Regions from separate parts of the Homo sapiens genome. Here regions 1 and 2 are each linked to region 3. The links come from fine-mapping of genetic effects on gene expression. A gene starts in region 3. Each other region holds a variant in brackets. All regions are shown on one strand. Distances are from middle to middle.

Evidence for each region.
Region 1: its variant is fine-mapped to the expression of GNA13 in whole blood (TOPMed, PIP above 0.99).
Region 2: its variant is fine-mapped to the expression of GNA13 in whole blood (TOPMed, PIP above 0.99).

What each region holds. Positions count from the first base shown.
Region 1 is chr17:64,966,748-64,975,019 of GRCh38, forward strand. It overlaps the pseudogene AMZ2P1. Among named protein-coding and RNA genes, the nearest start is that of LRRC37A3, 51 kb to the left of the region's middle. RefSeq lists a silencer at 7,664-7,958. The variant G/A (reference allele first, on the strand shown) is at 4,400.
Region 2 is chr17:64,912,486-64,920,757 of GRCh38, forward strand. LRRC37A3 (leucine rich repeat containing 37 member A3) reads right to left here and starts at 6,993. Exons shown (of 15, transcript NM_199340.5): 1 at 6,946-6,993; 2 at 6,265-6,385. RefSeq lists silencers at 6,343-6,722, 6,793-6,882, 6,983-7,202 and enhancers at 6,818-7,318, 7,394-7,895, 7,896-8,272. The variant A/T (reference allele first, on the strand shown) is at 5,041.
Region 3 is chr17:65,052,535-65,060,534 of GRCh38, forward strand. It overlaps GNA13 (G protein subunit alpha 13), which reads right to left and starts at 4,206. Exons shown (of 4, transcript NM_006572.6): 1 at 3,777-4,206; 2 at 968-1,194. The coding sequence starts at 4,059. RefSeq lists silencers at 3,444-3,703, 3,984-4,493.

The DNA.
Region 1 (8,272 bases), 86 kb before region 3:
TATATCTTCTCCAGACAACCGTCATCCCCAATTTATTCACCTAGGCAAATCTTAGTTCAAAAGAGTTTGTGAGAAAGGCTGACCTACAGGACTAAAACCGTGCTTACATTGTAGGAAAATAAAAGAAAATGTAATCGAATGGACAATAATTTTTAAAGCACATTATTCAAGGAGGAATAAGCCCTGTAACAGAATCCATAAAACACCATGCTCCATCAGTCTCTTTTTGCTAACAGAATGACCAAGTATTCTCTCCAATTAATTTTAATAGCAAACCACCATTTCCTAAAATGACTTAAATGGGTTCAATCAAGTAGGAGAATGAATCCAAGGGAAACCACTGACTAGGGGTATAAAATGTGCCTTACATCATATTGCATACATCAAACAATCAAAGAATTTAGGCTTCAAATTACAAGAAAAAAAAATACCTTTAAGTCTTACCCTCAAGGTAAGATAGGAAAGTGGGAAATGCTGTCTGCTCACTGGCATTCCATAAAATATTCACTGTAATTTCTGGATTTCCAAGACACATCTATCTAGCAGAGGTGGTTTGTCAAGTCTGAGCTTTTCCACCTGTCCACCCCTGTAGCAATGGGGCTGATGTTCACAACCTGCAGACCATCATCAGCATTCATGGCACCCCGACAGATAACCCCATTAAACTCTCTCCCTGACTCAGGTAAACACTTCACAATGTGAGAAGGTGAGAAAGACATTATTACTGAAATAAACCTGAAAGCTGCTCTAAGTCTATAGAGAAAGTGTAACACTCACAAATATAAATACCATTACACACTATTTGTAAGATCCCTCATAAATGACTATGTTATAGCTGAGACCTGCAACGGAACTCCCACCACCAAATGTTGTGGTAGTGTAAGGACCATTGTTATTTTCACTTGCAAATATTCCTGAGAGGTCGTATTTTAAGCTGCTAAAAACTAAAACAGGAATAAGGTGACAACCAGCAAAAGAAAAAAAATGAGCTAATGCACTCGAGAGAGTAAGGAAGGCTCACGGAAGAGGAGGGCTGTGGTGATCAGAGTCCACGGACGTCCAAAAATGTGACTTGGCTGGCCCTAACAGAGGGGAGCAGCTCTTCTAAAAACAAAATCACCCCCTGGAAATTATGTTGGTTGGTTCCTTGGGGCATCTACAGTTCTTTTTCAAGTTATTTACTTGCTCATTACCGCCAGTCCCAGCTTTCTTGGGAGACCTAAACATATTTGGGGAATGGAAATAATGTGCTTGCTGCCACAGACCAGGCCAGTAAGATGAGAAGATAAAGAGTTTCTAGAGTTTTTATTATTCAAAATGAGTTTCATTTCAATTCAGGTACTTGAAAGAAGGTTCTAGTCTGTTACTTTGACACAGCACAAGATCAATAGTTTATTCTGATGAAGTATTCCACCCAAATGAAAGCATAACATGCAAGTAGTCATTTATTTCAATCACTCCTATTTGAAGGTCCTTATTTTTGGAGAACAGTCAGGCATTTTATTATCCACTCTTTCCATTCCTTAAAGGCTTCCTTCCACGGGTTTCAGTAAATTCCCATTATCCTCACGACTGTGTTCTGGAGTTGCTCCAGGTGTGCCAGAAGATTCATCATCAATCCACCTCACCAGTGCCTGGAAAAGCATTGAAAGATGCGCACTTCAACAAACCACAGCAAAATACCATCAGGCAAGAGAGAAGCATTGGCTTCTAGATCATAGGGTGACATATTACCCCATGAAGACGCTGCATTTGATAATGATGCTGTGAATATGAATAATGCTAATGATATACTGAGTGAAATGGCACGTACCAAATACACACAGAATTACAAATGATGTCAAAAGTACGCACTGAAAAAAGATGAAAAAGAAATACACTCATTCTTATACTTTGTTTCTAGCATGATAGGATATTTTTTCTCAACTTGCTGAATATTCTACAAGGCATTATATTAATTTGACATGTATGTATATACATATATAAGTGTCCACACAGGCATGGGTAGACATATGTATGTGAAAACACATGTGTAGACATTTCTGTGCAGTCACCTGAATGCAGTCATACCCATGAGTAAACACATGAATGTATATTGATGTTTGTGGGCAAGTGTGGGCACACACACACATACTGAGATTAGGTACTTTCCTTCTTCCTTTTTAAAGAAAATCACTTTTTTCCTCCTAATGAACATCATACCTCTGTCCCATATTTGGAAAGATAAATCCTGTCCTCACACTTATAGGGTTTAAAAAATGAACTTTGCCACACATATCAATATTTATTCAGTTTTGCAAAGTCAAGCTCTCTTGCCCTAAATGGAAGAGAAGCAGAAAATTTCTTCCACTATTTCTCATTGAACTGTAAGCATAAATCACTCTAAGGCAAGCTGAAGTTTTTAAGAAGGGCATTTCTTCGCATGTTTTTAAACCACAGCTTCCTGCTTATCTTTACACTAATTTCCTCTGATAAATTATAACTCTAGAGAAGGATATAATAGATACATCAGTTTGCTACTCAGATAACCACTTCCCCCTCTTTACACTATCCATCCCTCAACTTACTTTATATCTTTCTACAATGCTGAAGCCAATAACAGCACACTGCAACTTGTGCAAACAGATAGGGCAAAGGTTTAGAGGGCGCCGGTCAGCTTCTTCCAAGTGGAAGAAGCCCCAGATTTCCCTATCAAAATCCTTTGCTGCTATCCACCATGCCTTGTCTTGTAAAACTTAATGGGCTGGAGGTCAAATACTTGAGAAACTGAAGTTTCAGAGTCTTTTCCCACAAAAGAAGTCTTTTTCTGAAAGTAGCAAGTACTCCAAATCAAGTACTCAAAAAGGAACCACAAAAACTAATCACATGGGTCAGGCATGGTGGCTCATGCCTGCAATCCCAGCACTTTGGGAGGCCAAGGTGGGCGGATCACCTGAGGTCAGGAGTTCAAGACCAGCCTGGCTAACATGGTGAAATCCTGTCTCTACAAAAATACAAAAATTTGCCAGGCATGATGGTAGGCGCCTATAATCCCAGCTACTCAGGAGGTTGAGGCAGGAAAATGGCTTGAACCCGGGAGGCGGAGTTGCAGTGAGCCGAGATCCCGCCATTGCACTCCAGCCTGGCGACAGAGCGAGACTCCATCTCAATAAATAAATAAATAAATAAACAAATAAAATAAAATAAATCACATCAACAATAGGCAGTCATGATTTCACTCTTTAAGGACACGCTAAACAGATCTGTTACACGTGTGCCTGGAGGGGTTGCTGGCCTTCCCTCACGCAGCACTGACTGAGGACAACTGCCCTGATGTCTTGAAGCCCATGCTTTAAACCACGGCTTTAGACAGAATAACCTCGTCCCCTTCCCCACCCCCACCCCCTTTTTAAAGAGCAGCTCAACTCTATTCTGTCACTAGTGTCTGGTGACCAGAATAAATACCCTTGTAACTGACTTCCTGTGTTACATTTAGAGTTATATCAACCATCTCTGCAAGCACAGAGAACACGGTTTGCTACGTAACTCACCCTACAGGGTACTGCTTCACAATTCGACTTGTTTACATGATCACTTTTATTTATGTCTCTCGTTCAGTTTTTATTTTAAAGTAATAAATTTTTAAAGAAAATAACCCATGGTAGGTTTGTTCAATCTAATTTGATTCAAAAACAACTTCCTCACCTCCCTTTACCCAGAAAATGTGGACTGATATTCGAAAATTAGGGAAAATAGCATTCTAGAAGTTAAGAAAACACTAAATCTATTCATGTATCACAAGTAACCCCCTCTGGCCAATCAAGTGTGAGCATATTTCACTACAGTAATACTTTCAGCAAGGACATTTCTTTCTTCCAATAATCCTACAAATAGAAGATTATTTTCTTTCGTAGTCAATGCTTCTCAATTTAAAAATATGAATCTTTGTAAACTTGGAGAAAACAAGACCACTGTGTTAAGATATTGTCACTGTCTAATCCTGCCACTTTCCTATGTAAATCTTTCATGTCATGTAATATTTAAGAAACTTACAAAAAAAAGAATTAAAGTAAAAACAGTTTGGGGAAATGTTTCCTGACCTCCTCAAATACATAAGATAAGTTAGCTAGTAATATCTAGATAAACGAACATATGGTTTGAAAATTATTTTTTTAGCTGGGTGTGGTGACTCACACCTTTTATCAAAGCACTTTGGGAGGCTGAGGTGGGAGGCTCGCTTGAGCCCAGGAATTCAAGATGAGCTTGAGCAACACAGGGAGATCCCATCTCGACAAAAAAAATAAAATAAAATAGCTGGGTGTGGTGGTCCTGTGGTCCCAGCTACTCAGGAGGCTGAGGCGAGGCAGGAGGATCCCTTCAGCCCAGGAGGCTGAGGTTGCAGTGACCCATGATCAGCCTG[G/A]GTGATAGAGGGAGACCCTGTATCAAAAGAAAAATGAAAGGTAGATAAAATTAATTTTTAATGTTTCCGTCTCTATCAGGTTAATAATAAGAGAGAAAACTTATGATAAAAAGCTACCTCACACCACCAAAATCAGTAAGAGAGTAGTGACCCACGTCTCCAAGACTGCATGTTGGTAGGGCCATGGGGGGCCACAAGTAAACCTCACATAAATGGAGAATAAAGAATAAACGAGTAAGTGGGAAGAGGCTCTATAGCCCTACAGCCCCCACCTCTAGTAGAAACATTTGTCCCAAAAAGCTTACCACCCCACACAAATCCTAAGGCTAATGTAACATCCAGACAGACCATAAACTCTCAGGATAGTCCCTGTACTTACTCCCCATCCCCAGAACACTAATGAACCACTCCCCTTAGGGGGCCTTTTCCCTTTCAAGTCTGTCTTGGATTATTGGGGATGAAGTTAGAGAAGTAAGAGCAAAAATGAAGGGGAGGGGAGAAGTAGAGAGATGACAAAAAAAGGTTAAAAATATAACCTGTTTCGTGAACCTTTCCCATCCCCAATATTACCATGCAGAGTTCCTAATGAGTCAATGTTTACTATGTATCTCAAATCAAAGATGGAAGTTTTTACTTTTTAAATTAAAAAACAAACAAAAAACAAATGTCGTATGATGAGAAAGAAGCAACACTTAGTCTATGGCTATCCTAACTGTGCAAGATGACTATGAAAAGAATTGAAAAACAATTAGCAAGATTTTCACATCCATTAATGATAGCTCAAACTGTAATTGGCTTAATTCACCTTGCTACTGAATTACTGACGTTTACTAGCTGTTATGCTGAATGCCTATATATGTGCCAGGCCTATATATGCTTTTTTTTTTTTGAGACACGGTCTCAATTTATTGCCCAGGCTGGAGTACAGTGGTGCGATCACGGCTCACTGCAGCCTCAACCTCCTGGGCTCAAGCAATCCTCTCGCCTCAGCCTCCTGCATAGCTAGGACTACAGGTGTGTGCCACCATGCCCAGCTAATTTAGTTTTTTTAATTTTTATTTTTTGTAGACATGTAGTCTCACTATGTTGTCCAGGCTTATCCACACTTTTTATGTACAGGCACTTTTATGTAAATTATCTCCAAATGACTCCATGATGTGGGTATTGTTACCTTTAAGGTCCTGTAGGTAGTGAGTGGCCAACCAGAACCTAGATTATCACAATCTACCAACAGCACACTTCCCATTATGGCATAATGTCTCAACTGAAAATACTATAGTTTTAAATATCAATATGATTCTTGGTTGGAATTTTTTTCCCTCTTTTAACATCTTCAAATATTCTCAAGTTGAAGAAGCTTCTAACAACAATGCCAAAAACGGAATACCATCTGTCAAAGAGGCCTGTCCAAAGACAAAATTCCACAAGTCTCTTGGGTAAAGATCAATCATTGTTATTCCCACAACACAGAAGGCATCTTCAGGTTTCTTCTTTTTCAAGAACTTCAGGATGTCCCCTATTTAAGAAGAAATACATAAATGTATGAGTGTATATTATATACATATGCTTCCTTTACTCAGTTCAAATTGCAAAGTTGTGTAATTCACCTGCATGAATTTGTAGGTTTTGTGTGTTCTCATTGACTCTAAAGGAACACCTTGTTGTAGAAACAGGAACTGGTTCTAGCAGTTTTACTCTCAAGCGATAGAAATATGCTTTACAGTAGCCCGTGAGCCATTTAATATATTCTTCACTGATAATTCTGGTGCTTCATAGAGATCCTATAATATGGAAGAACATTTAAAAACAGACTTTAAGACGATTATTCAGTGTTTACCCAGTCTATGAGTAAGAGGATTCAAATTAGAAACAAAACCAACTCTAAATTTTCAATACACCTTTAACATTCATCGGTGTTGATATGAATTAAAAAAAAATGTTCTAGGTCTGTTTGGCTACAAAACTTGTACCATTGCAATGAATATCAAAAATGATCCTAAAATGGCCCATCTGAATCAGACCAATAGCCCGGACTATTCCTGACAACAGAACCATTGCAAAACCGAACCAAAACTAGCACATTACCAGTATTTACCAATGGACCGTATATAAATACTGCGTTTGTCTGGAGAGGGTATCTTTCTGTAAGGATGACTGAAGAACTGTTCAAAGTCTTGGGGGGCCTCAGGGTGGGAGGTGATCCAATCTGATGGAGAATGCAAGGTCCAAAGAGATCACTGGCTGGCTGGAATGCTTCATTCATTAAACGCTGTTCCCCAGCATCTACTTTCTCATACTGTGACACAAGCACTGGATTCTTTGAGATGACAGCTATTTTTAGTGTCTGTTCGGAATACCGTACTATTTGCATCTAACAAAAAAATACAAGCAGTCAAATATAAAAATACATATCCATATTGGGGACTTTACCTATTCTCCATATACAGCTCTGATTTCTCCCTAGAGTGAAATGACTGACTGCTAATGCTTTAGAGTGGTCACACTTAGAGTGGTTTCCTCATGTCCAATCAATTTCTTGGGGACCTAAGAAATTACAAAGACAATCATGAAATCCATTCCTCCATCTCATATGGAACCTGCTCCCATTACAAAAACTAGTGGTGGCCAGGCGTGGTGGCTCATGCCTGTAATTTCAGCACTTTGGGATAGGAGGACTGCTTGAGGCCAGGAGTTTGAGAACAGCTTGGGCAACATGGTGAGACCCTGTCTCTACAAAAAACTTAAAAATTCCCTGGGCATAGTGGTGCACACCTGTGGTCCTAGCTACCAGGGAGGCTGAGGTTGCAGTGAGCCATGATCGTGCCACTGCACTCCAGCCTGGGCAAGAGTCCAAAACAAACAAAAAAATCTCATGGTGACCATAGGAGCAGGACCTCACACCCAATTTCCTTCTTTTGGGGAATAATATTGGCCTGGCATGGTGGCTCATGCTTATAATCCCAGCACTTTGGGAAGCCAAGGCAGAAGGATTACTTGAGCCTAGGAGTTTGAGATCAGCCTGGGCATCATGGCAAAACCCCATATCTACAAAAAAATTAGCCGGGCATGGTGGTGTGCACTTGTAGTCCCAGCTACTTGGGAGGCTAAGGTGGGAGGATCATCTGAGCCCAGGAGGTCGAGGCTGCAGTGGGCTGTGATCGTGCCACTGCACTCCAGCCTGGGCAACAGAGACTTTGTCTCAAAAAATCATATTATGAATTAACTCATTAGTGCCACATGAAAAATACTCCTCGTTTCTAGTGTGACTCAAAGATCTTCAACATCAAATAAAAACAAAACTAATGTAAGCCCTATCATTTCTGCAATTTAACTGCAGGCTGAGAAGCTACGGCTTAGTCACATCACATTAGGGAAGACATCAGATGACTAATCAAAAGCCAGACTCACAATGACAGGTTTCTTCCATTCACATCGTGTTCCTATGTAGAGTTTTCATCCTTCCTCTTGAAAAGGGTCAGATGTTCCACCACGAGACTTTTTGAATTACACAAGGAAAAACCTGAACATCTCTGTCTGGATCATCTCTGTCATATTTTCTAATTATCTAGATTTTGCCAGTTTAATGATAGACAACTGATGGGAAAACTTAAGCTAATGTCTGTTCTGATTGAACCTCTGAATTCTGGGGTTGAAGAGGCTGGCTGAAATTCCAGATCAAATGTCTCTGTACTCAAAGCTCTGATAAGAGCATAAGCTCATCCTCACTCCTACACAACTGGGCTGAAATCTGACTTCTACAGGACAAAATATAAAACCAGATGTACCTTCCAGTGGTCTACCTACCTTGATTAGGAAGGAAGGCTCCCATGGAAGCTTTTATCTCACAAGGACAGACATGTCTGGGCCTGGCCA
Region 2 (8,272 bases), 140 kb before region 3:
ACAGCAAAAACATAGCACAGATATAACCAAAAGCCAATTAATAAAACATAACACTAAAAAATATTCAGTTAATCCAAAAATAGGCAGAAAAAAGAAACAGAAGAAACCCCCCAAAAAAAGAAATAACCAGAAAACAAATAATAAAAAGGAAACCTAAATCCAATCATCATCAATCATATTAAATGTAAATGGTCCAAAACACATTAATTAAAAGACGCTGTCAGATTACATTTAAAAGAAAAACGAAAAAACAAGAAACCATTTGAAAATATAATGATATGGCCAAGTATGGTGGCTCACGCCTATAATCCCAGCGTTTTGGGAGGTTGAGGTGGGCAGGTGGCTTGAGCCCAGGAATTCAAGACCAGCCTGGGCAACATGGCAAAACCCCATCTCTATTTTTACAAATTAAAAAATAAATGAATATCATGATATCTAGATTAAAAGCAAAAGGGTAGAGAAAGATATGTCATTTTAACACTAGTCAAAAACAGTATTATACTACTAATATAAAACACTAATTTTATATTAATATTAAGTAATTTTTTTTTTTTTTCCCCCGAGATGGAGTCTTGCTCTGTTACCCAGGCTAGAGTGCAATGGCATGATCTTGGCTTACTGCAACCTCTGCCTCCCGGCTTCAAGCAATTCTCTGGCCTCAGCCTCCCAAGTACTTGGGATTACAGGCAGCTGCCACCGTGCCTGGCTAATTTTTGTATTTTTAGTAGAGACGGGGTTTCACCATCTTAGCCAGGCTGGTCTCGAACTCCCGACCTCAGGTGATTCACCTGCCTCGGCCTTCCAAAGTGCTGGGTTTACAGGCATGAGCCACTGCACCTGGCCTATTTTGGGTTTTTTTTTTTTTTTTCTTTTGAAATGGAGTCTTGCTCTGCTTCCCAGGCTGGGGTGCAGTGGCGTGATCTCGGCTCACTGCAATATCCAACTCCCGGATTCAAGTGATTATCTTGCCTCAACCTTCTGAGTAGCTGGGACTACAGACGTGTGCCACCACACTAGGCTATTTTTCTCTTTTTAGTAGAGATGGGGTTTCGCCATGTTGTCCGGTCTGGACTCGAACTCCTGACCTCAGGTGATCCACCCGCCTCGGCCTCCCAAAGTGCTGGGATTACAGGCATGAGCCACCATGTCTGGCCAAATAATGGTTTTTAATATAATGATTATTACCAGAAATAAAGGTTATTTCAGAATGATAAAGGGGTCAAATAATCAAGAGGACAAAACTGTAAATGTTTCTGCATCTAATAACAGTGCCTCAAAATACAGGAAGCATAAACAGACAGAATTTTAAGGAGAAAGAGAACAAACCCATAACAATCATTGCAGACTTCAACACTCCTTTCTCAGTAATCACTAGAACAAGCAGACAGGAAATCAGCAAGGATAGGGAAGACCTTAACACGATCAACCAACTTGACCTAATTATTATTTATGAAACACTTTACCTAAAGGCAGCAGAACACATCTTTCCTATTACAAACTGAACATTGACCTAAACAAACAATGTTTCAGGCCATATACAAACCTCTACATTTTTTTTTAATTCATCATAACGAGTATGTTCCCTAACCATAATGGAATTAAATTAGAAACCAACAACAAAGATGTCTGGGAAATCCCTAAATGTTTGAAAATTAAACAATACGTTTTAAAACAAATCATGGGTCAAAGAGTAAGTCATAGTAGAAATTTTACAATATTGTGAACCAAATGAAAATGAAAATAAAACATGTATCACAAATTCTAAGATATGTTTTTAAAAGTGCACAAAGGGGCTGGGCGCAGTGGCTCATGCCTGTAGTCCCATCACTTTGGGAGGCCAAGGCAGATGAATCACCCGAGGTCAGGAGTTCGAGACCAGCCTGGCCAACATGGTGAAACCTCATCTCTACTAAAAATACAAAAATTAGCTGGGCGTGGTGGTGGGTGCCTGTAATCCCAGCTACTTGGGAGGCTGAGGCACGAGAATAATTTCAACCTGGGAGGTGGAGGCTTCAGTGAGCCAAGATCGCACCACTGCACTCCAGCCTGGGCAACAGAGCAAGATTTTGTCTTTAAAAACAAAAACAAAAACAAAAAAACGCATAAAGGAGCACAGTGGTTTAGCCTGGAATCCCAGCACTTTGGGAGGCCAAGGCAGGAGGATTGCTTGAGCAAAAAAATTCAAGACCAGCCTGGGCAGTATAGTGAGAACTCATCTCTATTTAAAAAGAAAGAAAGAAAAATCAAAGAAAATGAGGTATACATGCACAAGAGGATATTATTCAGCCATTTAAAAAGTGAAGTCATCTATAAAGCTTAAGGTTTGGAAAATAAAATCTGTTTGCAGCAACATGGATAGAACTGGAGGACATTATGTTAAGTGAAATAGGCCAAGGGCAGAAAGACAAGTATCACATATTCTCATTCATATATGAGAGATTAAGAAGTTGATTTCATGGAGATAGGCAGTAGAATGATGGTTACCGGGGGCTGGGAAGCAGGTAGGGATGAAGACAAGTTGATTCATGGGCATAAAAACTCAGTCAGATAGAAGGAATACGTTTTAGTTTTTATTTGCACAGTAGGGTGACTAGAGTCAACAATAACTTAGTGTATATTTTAAAATAGCTAGAACATTTGTTATCTTCCCAATACAAAAAAAAGGATAAACATCTGAGATGATGGATACCCTAATTAACCTGATTTGATCATTACACACTGTATGAATCTATCAAAATATTGCATGTACCCTTATAAATATGTACACTCTACCTTAAGGAAACAGTGAAAAAAGGTGTGGAACAACGACCACAACAAAATCAAAGAGGAAAATCTTTGTGAACTTGGGTTTGTCAGGCCAGGAATCAGCAAACCATGGCCAATCCACTACCTGTTTTTCTAATAATCAAAACAATATAATTGATAATTTGTAAATTATGTGAAATTCAAACTGCAGTGTTCATAAAGTTTTATTGGAACAGCTATTATCATTCATTTACATATTGTCTATGACTGCTTTCATTGCTACAATGGCAGAGCTGCAACAGGGACAGCAAGGCTGAAATATTTACTATCTGACCTTTTACAGAAAAAGTCTGGCAAGGTCTGGGTTAGGTAGAGCTGTTAGATGAACACCAAATGTGTAAAAGAAAAAATGTGGTAAATCAGACTTCATCAAAATTTAAAACTTATGCTCTGGGAAAGAGACACCGCTAAGACAATGAAACACAAGGCACAGATGGGGAGAAAATGTATGAACATCACACAGCCTAACAAAGCACTTATATCCAAAATATATAAAGAATTCTTACTACCCAACAGTAAGAAATTGGCCAGGCATGGTGGCTCATGCCTGTAATCCCAGCACTTTGGGAGGCCAAGGTAGGCAGATTGCTTGAGCTCAGGAGTTCAAGACCAGCCTGGGCAACATAGCGAAACCCCATCTCTATTAAAAATACAAAAATTAGCCACACATGGTGGCATGCATCTGTGGTCCTAACTACTTCAGAGGCTGAGGTGGTGGGAGGATCACCTTGAACCTGGGGTCGAGGGGAATGACAGGCTGCAGTGAGCCAAGATCATGCCACTGCACTCCAGCGTGGGTGAAAGAACGAGACTCTGTCTAAAAAAATAAAAGAAGCCTGGCGTGGTGGCTCACGCCTGTAATCCCAGCACTCTGGGAGGCCGAGGCAGGAGGATCACAAGGTCAGGAGATCAAGACCATCCTGGCTAACATGGTGAAACCCCGTCTCTACTAAAAATACAAAAAATTAGCTGGGCGTGGTGGCGGGTGCCTGTAGTCCCAGCTACTTGGGAGGCTGAGGCAGGAGAATGGTGTGAACCCGGGAGGGGGAGCTTGCAGTGAGTCAAGATCGCGCCACTGCACTCCAGCCTGGCGACACAGCGAGACTCCGTCTCAAATAAATAAATAAATAAAATAAAATAAAAGAAGAATAACAATAAAGAAAGCAACCCAATTAAACATCTTAAATAAAGATTTTGGTATCTTGGCCAGGCATGGTGGCTCATGCCTGTAATCTCAGCACTTTGGGAGGCCGAGGCAGGCAGATCGCTTGAGCCCAGGATTCGAAATCAGTCTGGGCAACATATCAAAACCCCATCTCTATTAAAAAAAAAAAAAAAAAAAAACTAGCCAGGTGTGGTGGTGCGCACTTGCAATCCCAGTTACTTGGGAGGCCAAGAGGTGGGAGGATGGCTTGAACCCAGAAGGTGGCGGCTGCAGTGAGTGGTGACTGTGCCACTGCTCTCCAGCCTGGGCAACAGAGCAAGACTCTGTCTCAAAAAAAAAAAAAAGACTTTAGTATTTTTCCATAAACAATGATATACAGATGGCAAATCAAAAGATGCACATAAAAAGAGGCTCAGAACCATTAGTCATTAGGGACAAGGAAATTAAAACCAGAAGAAGCTACCACCATATACTTATTAAGGTGGCCAAAAAAAAAAAAAAAACTTGAGGCCGGGCGCAGTGGCTCACGTCTGTAATCCCAGCACTTTGGGAGGCCGAGGCGGGCAGATCACGAGGTCAGGATATCGAGACCATCCTCGCTAACATGGTGAAACCCCGTCTCTACTAAATATACACAAAAATTAGCCGGGCGTGGTGGTAGGCCCCTGTAGTCCCAGCTACACGGGAGGCTGAGGCAGGAGAATGGCATGAACCCGGGAGGCGGAGCTTGCAGTGAGCCGAGATCGCGCCACTGCACTCCAGCCTGGGTAACAGAGCCAGACTCCATCTCAAAAAAAAAAAAAAAAAAAAAAAAACCTGAAAATATCAAGTGCTAGGGAGGATACAGAGCAACCGGAACTCTTCATACATTTGCAGGTAAGAATGCAAAATGGTACAGCTACTTTGGAAAACAGTTTTGGCAGTTTCTTATAAACATACAACCCAGAAATCATACTCCTAGGTATTTACTCAAGAGAAACAAGAATTGTGTTCAGACAAAAAACATTATGGAAATGTTTACGGCAGCTTTATTCATAGGTGCCACAAACTAGAAATAATTGAAATATTCA[A/T]CTATTGAACAGATAAATGCACTGTGATACACTCATATAAAGGACTGCTACTCAGCAATAAAGAAACTACTGATACAACAACACAGATGAATCTTAAATACATTATGCACTGTACACGTATAAACTAAAAAATTAAAATACCTATTTAAAAGTCAAACAGGCCGGGCGCGATGGCTCACACCTGTAATCCCGGCACTATGGGAGGCCGAGGCCGGCGGATTACCTGAGGTCAGGAGTTCAAGACCAGCCTGGCCAACATGGTGAAACCCTGTCTCTACTGAAAATACCAAAAATTCGCCAGGCGTAGTGGCGGGCGCCTGTAATCCCAGCCACTCAGGAGGCTGAGACAGGAGAATCGCTTGAACCTGGGAAGCGGAGGTTGTGGTGAGCTGAGATCGCGCCACTGCACTCCACCCTGGGCAACAAGAGCGAAACTCTGTCTCAAAACTAAATAAATAAAGTCAAACAGTACATGAAAAAATAATATGATCAAGAGAGGTTCACTGCAAGAATGTAAGGGTGAATCAATATAAGATCTACTAATATAATTCTATGAATATACACTACTGTAATTAATATGTAGCATGCAGGAGGAAAACTATATGATCATCTTAAAAGATGCTAAGATGTCATTTAACAAAATATAATAGCCATATCTGATTTAAAAAAAAAAAACTTAAACAGAAAAAAAATTGAAATAGGTGAATATACTCAACACATTAAAGGTCTCAAACCAACAGTTAACCATTAAATATCTGCAACAGTTCCATTAAATTGGGATAGCATACTAAGATGCCTATCATTATAACTAACATTTGACATTGTTTTGGAGGAGGTGGTAGGGAATGCAATTTTTTTCTTTTTTCTTTATTACCCAGGTTCCCATCAATGGTAAAGGCAATGTAATTTGAAGAGAAAAAGGAGACATAAATATAAGAAAATCAGATGTGTACATGATTCATGTTTGCAGATGACAAAACTTTATTCCTAGAATAAAGTTATTCCAATCAAAGCAAAAGCTACAAGAAACAATTAGAAAAAAGAATAGGTGGCTGAATTCAAAATTAATTTTTTAAATTAATGAGTTTTCAACTAGAAGCCCCCTAGCAGAGCAGGTATTTTCATAGACAAATTAAAGATTAAATAAGATATCATGGCATAAGTGAAAATATTTAACAAATAAATTATACTTCATCCAATTTTGTAAAAAATACATACATATACCTGTGCCAGGTGCAGTGGCTCACGCCTATAATCCCAACACTTTGGGAAGCTGAGGCGGGCGGATCGCCTGAGCTCAGGAGTTCGACACCAGCCTGGGCAACACGGTGAAACTCCATCTCTACTAAAAAATACAAAAAATTAGCTGGGTGTGGCAGCGAGCACCTGTAGTGACTACACCACTTTGTTGACGGCCGTCCGGACCTGCAGCTGTCCGGGCCAGGTGGCTGCCCCCGCCTCCCCCCGGCCGGGGCGCTGGTGCTGGGGTGGGGCTGGCGGCGGCGGCGGCTTTCTCCGGCTACTGCTGCCCCCCCTGGGCGAGCTCAGCCGCGTCTTGGGCGCCACCTCAGCCTGGGCGGCGGCCCACCTGCCCCGGCTGCTGCCGCGGTGCCGCGAGCGGAACCCCGGATGGGTCCGGACGTGGGCGGCGGCGGCGGCGGCGGGGCCGGGGCGCAGCGCTCCGCAGAGGGAGCCGCGGGCTGCTTGGTCGGCCTGCCCCGCCGGCCCCTCATGTTGGAACCGAGGCGGAGGGAGAAGGGAAAGCGGCCGGGAAGGGGCGGGCGCAATGGGCGCAGTGGGGGCGGCCGGGGCCGGGTGGGGAGGCCAGAGGGGCAGGGCAGGAGGGGCCCGGCCTGCGGAAGCGGTTGGAGGGAGAAGGCTCAATCCGAATGGCTGGGGCCTCACTGCGGATCGCCTTCAGCCGCCATCTTGTTTCTTCCGTTACCGGAGCGCGGTCACGTGAGCTGAGCAGCCTACGAGCCTGGGACGGGGCGAGGTGGCGCGGCGGCCGCTAGGGGGAGCGCGGGAGCATTGAGTCGGGGGCGGAGAGCCTGGGGCGCCGGGGCTGGGCGCAGCGCGGCGCGGCTGGACTCCGGGCGCGGTGGCGCCGTTGAGAGAGACGCGCAGCTCGCGAAATGCCCCGCGGCTAAGGCCTTCGGAGACCATAGTCTCCGCGGACCCCTGGCTGGAGCCCAAAGCCGGCCGGACCTCCTCCCTGCGTCTCCCCTTCCGCGGCTCGGAGAGGAAGGCAGGAGAGCCCCCAAATATTCCCCTCCCGCCCCCTAGGGAAACTGAAGCTGAAAGAGCCAGCGAAAGAAAAAAAAAGTCTCGGAGTGGGGCGGCCCGAGCGACCTAAGGGACGGGGCAGCGCCAGCGACCGAGGGAAATTAGTCGGGGTGGGGGAACAGGGAGACAAGCCCCCAGAATTTAGGAAACTCCTAAATTCTACTAAAAATACAAAAATTACCTGGGCATGGTGGCGGGTGCCTGTAATCCTAGCTACTGAGGAGGCTGAGGCAGAAGAATCGCTTGAACCCCTGAGGTGGAGGTTGCAGTGAGCCAAGATTGCGCCATTGTACTCCAGCCTGGGCTGCAAGAGTGAGACTCCTTCTCAAAAAATAAAATAAAATAAATCAAGAAAAGTCTGGAAACCATGCCAACTGGTGAAATGAATAAAGAAATAAATGTTGTCTGGACTGAGTGGCTCACACCTCTAATCCCAGTACTTTGGAGGCCGAGGCGGGCAGATCACTTGAGGCCAGGAGTTCAAACCAGTCTGGGCAACATGGTGAAACCCTGTCTTTTCTACAATTGCAAACAAATTAGCCGGACGTGGTGGTGCATGCCTGTAATCCCAGCTACTCGGGATGCTGAGGCCCGAGAATCGCTTGAACCTGGGAGGCAGAGGTTGCAATGAACTAAGATAACGCCACTGCACTCCAGCCTGGGTGACAGAATGAGACTAGGTCTCAAAAAAAAAATTATAATTCAGTAACATAGTCAGTTACAAGATAAACATTGAGCCTGCCTCCTAGGTTCAAGCGATTCTCATGACTCAGCCTCCCGAGTTGCTGAGATTACAGGCGTGTGCCACCATGCCTGGATAATTTTTTGTACTTTTAGTGCAGACGGTGTTTCACCATGTTGGTCAGGCTGGCCTCCAACTCCTGACCTCAAGTAATCCACCCACCTCAGTCTTCCAAAGTGCTGGGATTACAAGCGTGAGCCACTG
Region 3 (8,000 bases):
CACAGTCTAGATTTCTATCACTGCTGGAATCTTTCTGATCTTTGGCAAATAAAACCCAATCACAGCATTCACAGTTAAATTACAAAACACTTGATTAAAAATTTGTTTCAACTGTATTCTGTATCTTTAACCTGGATTGGATACTTTTATTCCAAACCTGTCTTCAATGCTGTGTAACAGCTACAAAGCATTTTATGGGTAGTCTCGTTAAAGAAAAAAGGGGAAAAATGCCTGGCACAATGCCAGCAATTTGGGAGGTCAAAGTGGGCACATTACCTGAGGTCAGGAGTTCAAGATCAGCCTGGCCAACATGGCGAAACTGCCTCTACTAAAAAGACAAAAATTAGCTAGGTGTGGTGGCACGCGCCTATAGACCCAGCTACACAGGAGGCTGAGGCAGGAGAGTTGCTTGAACCCTGGGGGCAGAGGTTGCAGTGGGCCAAGATCACACCACTGCACTCCAGCCTGGGCAACAGAGACTCCGTCTCAAAACAAACCCCCCAAAAACAAAAAAACAAATTTCTGAGGCTATAATTTTGGATAGATACATTAAATTATGGAAGTCAGTGAAAAAAGTGTGCTAAAATCAGATACAGGTTGAGTGTCCCTTATCCGAATGCCTGGGACCAGAAGTGTTTTGGATTTTGAATTTTTTCAGATTTTTGAAATATCTGCATACATATGAGATATGCTGGGAATGGGACTCAAGTCTAAACTAGAAATTCATTTATGTTTCATATATACCTTAAGATATGTAGCCTAAAGGTAATTTTATACACTATTTTTACACGTAGTCATTAGAGACTAGGACACATTAGGTCTGTGCCTTAGCCTTTCAGTCTGTTCCTCCATCTCAAATACTTTTAGATTTGGGAACATTTCGAATTTTCGCATTAGGGATGTGCAACCTGTATTACTAAACATCATTAAAATAAAACCACACGTTTTAAAAGAGCAAATCTCTTACCAGTTGAAATTCTCGACGCCGGTCATAGGCATTCTGTATGCCGCTGTCTGCCCATAATGCTCTTATAGCAGGAAGATATTGTAAGAAAACCCTTGTTTCCACCATTCCTTGGGCTGCCATGGGGGCCCGGGTATCAAACGACATCATCTTATCTCCATGTTGTTGGTTTGAGTTGTCTCCCCAGGGAATATGAAGCTTCTCTCGAGCATCAACCAGCACCCTCATACCTTTGTTTAAAAAGAAGAAAAAAAATGTATGGAGAGGAGTCATTACATATTATCATAAGTTTTTATTCCAGTATTATTTCCTTATACTTCTGAATTAACCTAGACAAACCTTCTTCAAAAATGAAGACCAACATCGAAAACAAATGTAACTTCTCAGAGGTTAAAAAAAATAACAGTTGCTCACTGTCTTAAAATTAGAGCCTTGAAAAGCAAATACTATTAGCACAATTCCTCTCTCTGAAGGATTTTTAACATGTTCCAATTTATAAAATAACTTCTAGGATAGAAGGTAGTCAAAAAACAATCTAACTCAAGAAAGAAAAAGAAGTTATGCTGCACAGACCAACAATGTCCAAGCTCAGAAGAAAACAGACACAACCAAGGTTTTATGAGCCTAAAAGATGTTCATTTATGAAACACTAAGAACCAACTACTATAGCTCCATGTTCTGTTTGTTGCTTCGGCACCCTAACCCAACATTGAGTCTTCTAGCAACACATTCAAAATTTAAAAACTTCTTCCAGCCCAAGTTTCAATCCAGTTTAAGTTACAGGATGGCCTTCAATTTCCCTAAAAGGGAGGAAGATCAACTGCAAAATAATACAAAGTCGGACTCCAACTCACAGAGGTTAGTTGAAACTCATTTTTCCTATCACTGATCTATTACTTTTATTAAGTTTGATCAATCTGAACAGTCACTTGGCTATTAGGAAGTCATCTGAATAACTGAAAAACGGGTGGGGTTTTTTTGTTTTTGTTTTTTAATAGAGACGAGGTCTGGCTATGTAGCCCAGCTGGTCTGGAACTCCTGGGCTCAAGCCATCCTCCCACTTTGGCCTCCCAAAGTGCTGGGATTGCAGGAGTGAGCCACCACGCCCAGCCTGAGAAACTGTTCTACTGTCAAATTTCATGTCAACTTGAAAAAACTAGATTCCTGATGACTTACATCATCTCATAATCAATGCTCAACGTAGATCACACTTACAACTCAGTGTACATTAAGAACGAGGTGTTTACCAGGCTCACAGTCAGTTAACATGTTGATGCTATTCATTAACATAATTCCTTAAGTTCAGCTGCATCAGGTTACAAAGGTACCTTCAATTAAGGACTGTCAAGGCAGAGTCTGCAGCCTTGAAAGAGACCTTAATTAGTTTTGAGCTAAACATTACAGCAGGATAAATACAACTGTTCTTTATAGTTTAACTGCAGAGGTACTAGGGCTAGAGCTGGCTGTGGTCTAGTGATTCTCTCTAATTCATTACTCCATAATGCCTGGCTCTTCAGGCAGTTTTCCTTTACCCAAACGCTGGAAGCTCGGGAGGCGGTTGGCGGGGAGGGGGCGGGGGGGTGACATGCAGAAGTCCCTTATGTACTTCCTGAACAAAAATCCCACTTAAAAAGACCTGCAATCTGTAGCAAACTCCTAAACTGCTCCCCAGATAAAATAAAATCCAGATGCACCTGAGTTACCAGGCGCTGCACCTAAATTTTGCCAAAATGCCTTTTCTATAGAACATACTTGACACGCAGAAACGAGTGTTAATTATCTTTCAAATGACAAAATAAAAACCATCTTTTCGATTTCTTTGAATGCCCAGAAATAAACAACTTGTTTATTTTTCACTTAAGAACAAAGTTTAATTTTAAAACTACTGTCAATAAAGAGCCGAGCCAATTATCTAACTCAACACTCATTCATTGTCTCCATCTGTACAGGATCCACATGACTTTTAGGCCAGTCTTCTTACTACTACATTTCATCTAAATAGAAGCAGTGGTACTCCCTTCCTGCCAGCCCCCAGTTACTTAGCGAAAAGGAGAGTGGAACGTGTTGCACAGAAATCACACGCAAACATCCTACCTGACCGTGACACTGGGGCGAAAAAGCACAGATGCTACATTTTCATGCTAACTGTATGGGTCCACTCTCTCCTGATTCCAGTACAGTCAACCTGACACTCCTCAAGTTTCATATTCTCGCCCAAAAGGAGGCTGTCACCCTACGCCCTTGACAAGAAGTCTCGGGCAAAAAGTTCCCTTATTGCGACGGTTCCAGAACTCGCTTGCTTAGGAGACGGCCAAGGAAGCAGGGAGTTGGGAGCGCATGCGACCCCATGTGACTCGGGTCACCCAGCCAGGGTAGCGAGGTTCGGCCCACATCGCCCGAGCAGGGGATGGGGGTGAAGCGGCTAGGGCTGCTATTGGTGTTCCTGCCTCATCCGCAGCGGGGAGGACAGGAGAGGTCTGCCCACACCCCGAGGCAGCACCCAGCTCGCCCCACTTCCCTCTCGCAGGGGGAGAGACCAGGACGCGGTGGGGGGTGGGGGAATGGCCGTGACGCCCACCGGGGAGACAAGCGGGAGAGCAGGGCGACCCCGAGCATCCTCTCGCCCTGGGGCGCGAGGGCACCCCGGGCGGGCAGGGCCAGTTGCCGGGGCGCGCCCCCTTCCCGCCAGCCCGCCCGCCGGGCCCGTTCCTTCGCCAGCGACACAGCGGACCAGGGCGGTGCCCCGCCCCGCACCCGCCGCCGCCCCAGCCCCCCTGCCCTTAACCCCCGGCCCCCATTCCCGGCCCGGCACCTTTGATCACGTTGCTGTAGATGGTGGGGCGGAACTCCTCGCGCGCGCGCTGGTCGAAGTCCTGCCCGTGGATGATCCGCATCTGCTTCAGGAAGGTGGACTTGCCGCTCTCGCCCGCGCCCAGCAGCAGGATCTTCACCAGCCGCTTCACATAGGTCTTTTCCCGAGACAGGCATTTGTCGATCTCCTTGGACTTGCGTTGCTGCTCGGCCTCGCCACTCGTCAGCAGGCAGCCGGGGAAGCACACGGACAGCACGGACCGCGACGGCAGGAAGTCCGCCATCTTGCCGCCGCCGCCGCCGCCTCGGCGGGCCCCTCCGGCTCCCTCCACCTCCTCCTCCGGCGGCGGGCGGCTCCGGCACCGAGGCTCGAGGGCGGGGAGCGCGGCGGCGGCCCGAGCGCGCCCAGGGAGGGAGGGAACCAGCGAACTGACTCGCAGGGCGGGCCGGGCAGGGCGGGCCAGGACAGCGGGGGAGGGAGGGAGGGAAGGAGGGCGGGCCCGGCCCCGGAGGGGCGGTGGCCCCGGAGCGTGCGCGCTCCCGCTGCCTCCCGGAGGCGCGCTCGCACGCCGCGGCCGCTTCTCCGCCTCCCGCCCTGGGCGGCGAGTCACGAGCTCGATGTGTCGCTCGGGTGCCCGCGCCCGCAGCCGCGGCCGGGCGCGCGGGGAGGGCTGAGGAACCGCGGTCACGTGGGCCAGGCTGGGGAGCCCGACTTTCTGTTTCCCTTTCATGGCCTGAGCCCACTTGTGGGCAGAAGGGCTCCTTCCCCAAGGCCGGGAGGCCGGAGACCAGGTCCCGGACGCGGTTCTTTGGGCTCCCACTTAGCCTCCCTTTCTCCCGCGTTGCGCGCCCGCTGCCCGCTGTCACCGCCCACCCGACCCATTTCGAGGCCACGGACTCGAAAGTTATTCGAACAGAACAGCCGGCGTGAGCCTGGCAGGCCTTTGGTGCATTTTCTTTATTTCATTTTATTTTTTCTCTTTTGAGACGGAGTCTCACCCTGTCGCCCAGGCTGGAGTGCATTGGCTCGATCTCGACTCACTGCAACCTCCGCCTCCCAGGTTCAAGCCATCCTTCCGCCTCAGCCTCCCGAGTAGCTGGGAGTACAGGCGTGTGCCATCATACCCGGCTAAATTTTTTGTATTTATTTTTAGATACAGGGGCTCCCCCCTATGTTGCCCAGGCTGGTCTCGAACTCCTGAGCTCAAGCGATCCTCTAGCCTCGGCCTCCCACAGTGCGGGGATTCCAGACAGAGCCACCAGGCCCAGGCCTGGTGTGTTTTCTTAAAGTGACTCCCTTGACCTTCTAGTCTCCGAATCCCAGAACGGTAACCAGACGTCGTCCACCCCCACTTCCAGCTCTTTCTGGCATTTTCAGACCCCTACCAGGGCTCTCTGTGAGGGGAAAGAACTGGAGTTGATGTTCACTTGAGACGTGCTACCAGGGGCATTTAATGGCTCACTCGTGCATTCCACCTGGGCTGTGATGTGACTTCAGGGACGCTTGGCCGCGCCGGAATTAGCGAGTGGCAGCAGGAGGGTGAGGTCATGGTGAAAATCCCCTACACCGGACACTGTGATGTAGGCTCTTCCCAACAAGGAAGCAGATACACAAACACAACGAGGAATGGGAGCACGCAAATTTTAGCTTTCCTGCCAGATTACAGAGGATATGACCCGTCCAGGGACTTTTTTTCTGTCCTAACAGCAGATTCAGGCCAGGACACCTGAAAGGAGGCCAGGAGACAAGCCACAAGTGACAGCTGTGGGTTGGCAGAGAAACTGCTTAACCGGGACCCCCGAGAGCCGACCTCTTCATTCTTAGTATTTAGTTTCAAGTGGAAAAAGCCACTTTGGTCTGTCCCTGTTTTGGGCAATGCAACGTAGCTTTGGGCTCCTGTGGCTCAGAAACTTCGTATGTATAAGGGAGCGGAGGTAAGAGGTCAGCATTCCAAGAAACTCCCGAACAGGTTTAAATTTTAAAATCGGTACTAATCAGTTACTCCCTGGGGTTGGGTTAATGACCGAGAAGCCTCGACTCAGTAGATTGGCTGCAGTAAACAATGCCTGTAGTAGGATTATCTCCTGTGGCTCTGGCAAGCCCAGAGGGTGGACAACCTACAATATACAAGTAGAGTAGGCTCACCTCCAATATCTGTGGATTGATAAGAGTCAGAATCACTGAGCAGTGCTGTCAGGCAAAATATATGGTAAAAGCCTGCCCTGGATGGAGAATTTTTCCATCATCTCATCTAGTGTTTGGGAGGCCCTGTTCTCTAACCATGCAAGGACTCGCCTCTCCCAGGATTGGGGCATAGAACCTGTCCCCGAGCACTGTTTCTGCATTGACCCCAGGTGCTAATCTGAACTCCAACAAAGAGGAGAGAAACTTGTAAGTTAGGTAGTTAACATCTTTTTTCAGAAGTGTGTGTAATATAATGGAAAACCAAGAATGCCTAGGAGGCAGGAAGGTATTCCTGCCCAGCCAGTTCATGTCGTGACATGCAGAGCAGCAGAGAAAGCTGTTTAAAGCCCTGCGTGTAAGCTTGCCTTGGAACAAACTTGGCTCACATCAAGTCTGGCTGTTCTAGTCAGTGTAGTTTTTAAAAAGAGACCTCTTTGACCTGAAAGTCAAATGAAGGAAGAAGAAGAAGAAGGAGGAAGGAGGAAGGAAGAAAGAAAGAAAAAGAAGGCCGGGCACAGTAGCTCATGCCTGTAATCCCAGCACTTTGGGAGGCTGATGCAGGCAGATGACTTGAGCCCAGGAGTTCGAGACCAGCCTGGCCAACATGGCGAAACTTCATCTCTACTAAAAATACAAAAATTAGTGGGGAGTGGTGGTGGGCGCTTGTAGTCCCAGCTACTCGGGAGGCTGAGGCAGGAGAATTGCTTGAACGTGGGAGGCGGAGGTTGCAGTGAGCCGAGATCAGGCCACTGCACTCCAGCATGGGTGACAGAGTGAGACTCTCTGTCTCAAAAAAAAAAAAAAAGAAAAAGAATGAATGAATGAAAGAAAGAAAAAGAGACCTCTTTGGGTCCAACCTAGGGGTTTGGCTGCAGCTGTCCAGCTTCTTCTAACTGGTGATCAAGACACCTTGTAAATTGTAAACATAAAAATGAGTTAGAGACTTGGTGGTTTCTCAAAGAGGTGAACATAGAATTGCCATATGACCCAGTAATTTTATCCTGGGTATACCCCCCAAAATACTAAAAAGAATTGAAAACAGTGTTCAAACAAAAACTTGTATACCCACGTTCATGGCAGCACCATTTATGGTAGCCAAGAGATTAGCCGGCTGCAGTGGTTCACGCCTGTAATCCAAACACTTAAGCCAGGAGTTTAAGAGCAGCCTGGGCAACATGGTGAAACCCTGTCTACAAAAAAATATATAAAAAGTAGGGGAAGGCGGTGTGCACCTGTGGTCCTAGCTACTCAGAAGGCTGAGGTGGGAAAATCGCTTGAGTCCAGGAAGCGGAGGCTGCAGTGAGCCAAAATTGCACCACTGCACTTCAGCCTGGGGAACAGAGCCAGACCCTGTCTCAAAAAAAAAAAAAAAAAAATAGCCAGATGTGGTGGCACATAGCTGTAGTTCTAGCTACTCAGGAGGCTGAGGCAGGAAGATTGCTTAAATGCAGGAGCTCAAGGCTACAGTGAGCTATGATCATGCCACTGAACTCTAAGTCTGTGTGACAGAGTGAGACCCTATCTCTAAAAAACAAGACACAAAGAGGGGAACAACAGACACTGGGACCTACTTGAGGGTGGAAGGCAGGAGGAGGGAGAGGATTAAAAAAAAAATACCTGGTCGGGTGCAGTGGTTCACACCTGTAATCCCAGCACTTTTCGGAGGCCGAGGCGGGCGGATCACCTGAGGTCAGGAGTTTGAGACCAGCCTGGCCAATATGATGAAACCCCATCTCTACTAAAAATACCAAAAATTAGGCGGGCATGGTGGCACGCGCCTGTAATCCCAGCTCCTCAGGAGGCTGAGACAGGAGAATTGTTTGAACCTGGGAGGCGGAGGTTGCAGTGAGCCGAGATCACGCCATTGCACTCTAGCCTGGGCAGCAAGAGCGAAACTCCGTCTCAAAAACCAAAACAAAACGAAACAAAACAAAAAACATATCGCATACTATACTTATTACCTGAGTGACTAAATAATCTGTACACCAAACTCGAGATGAGCAGTTTACCTGTATAACAAACCTGCATATGTACTCCTAA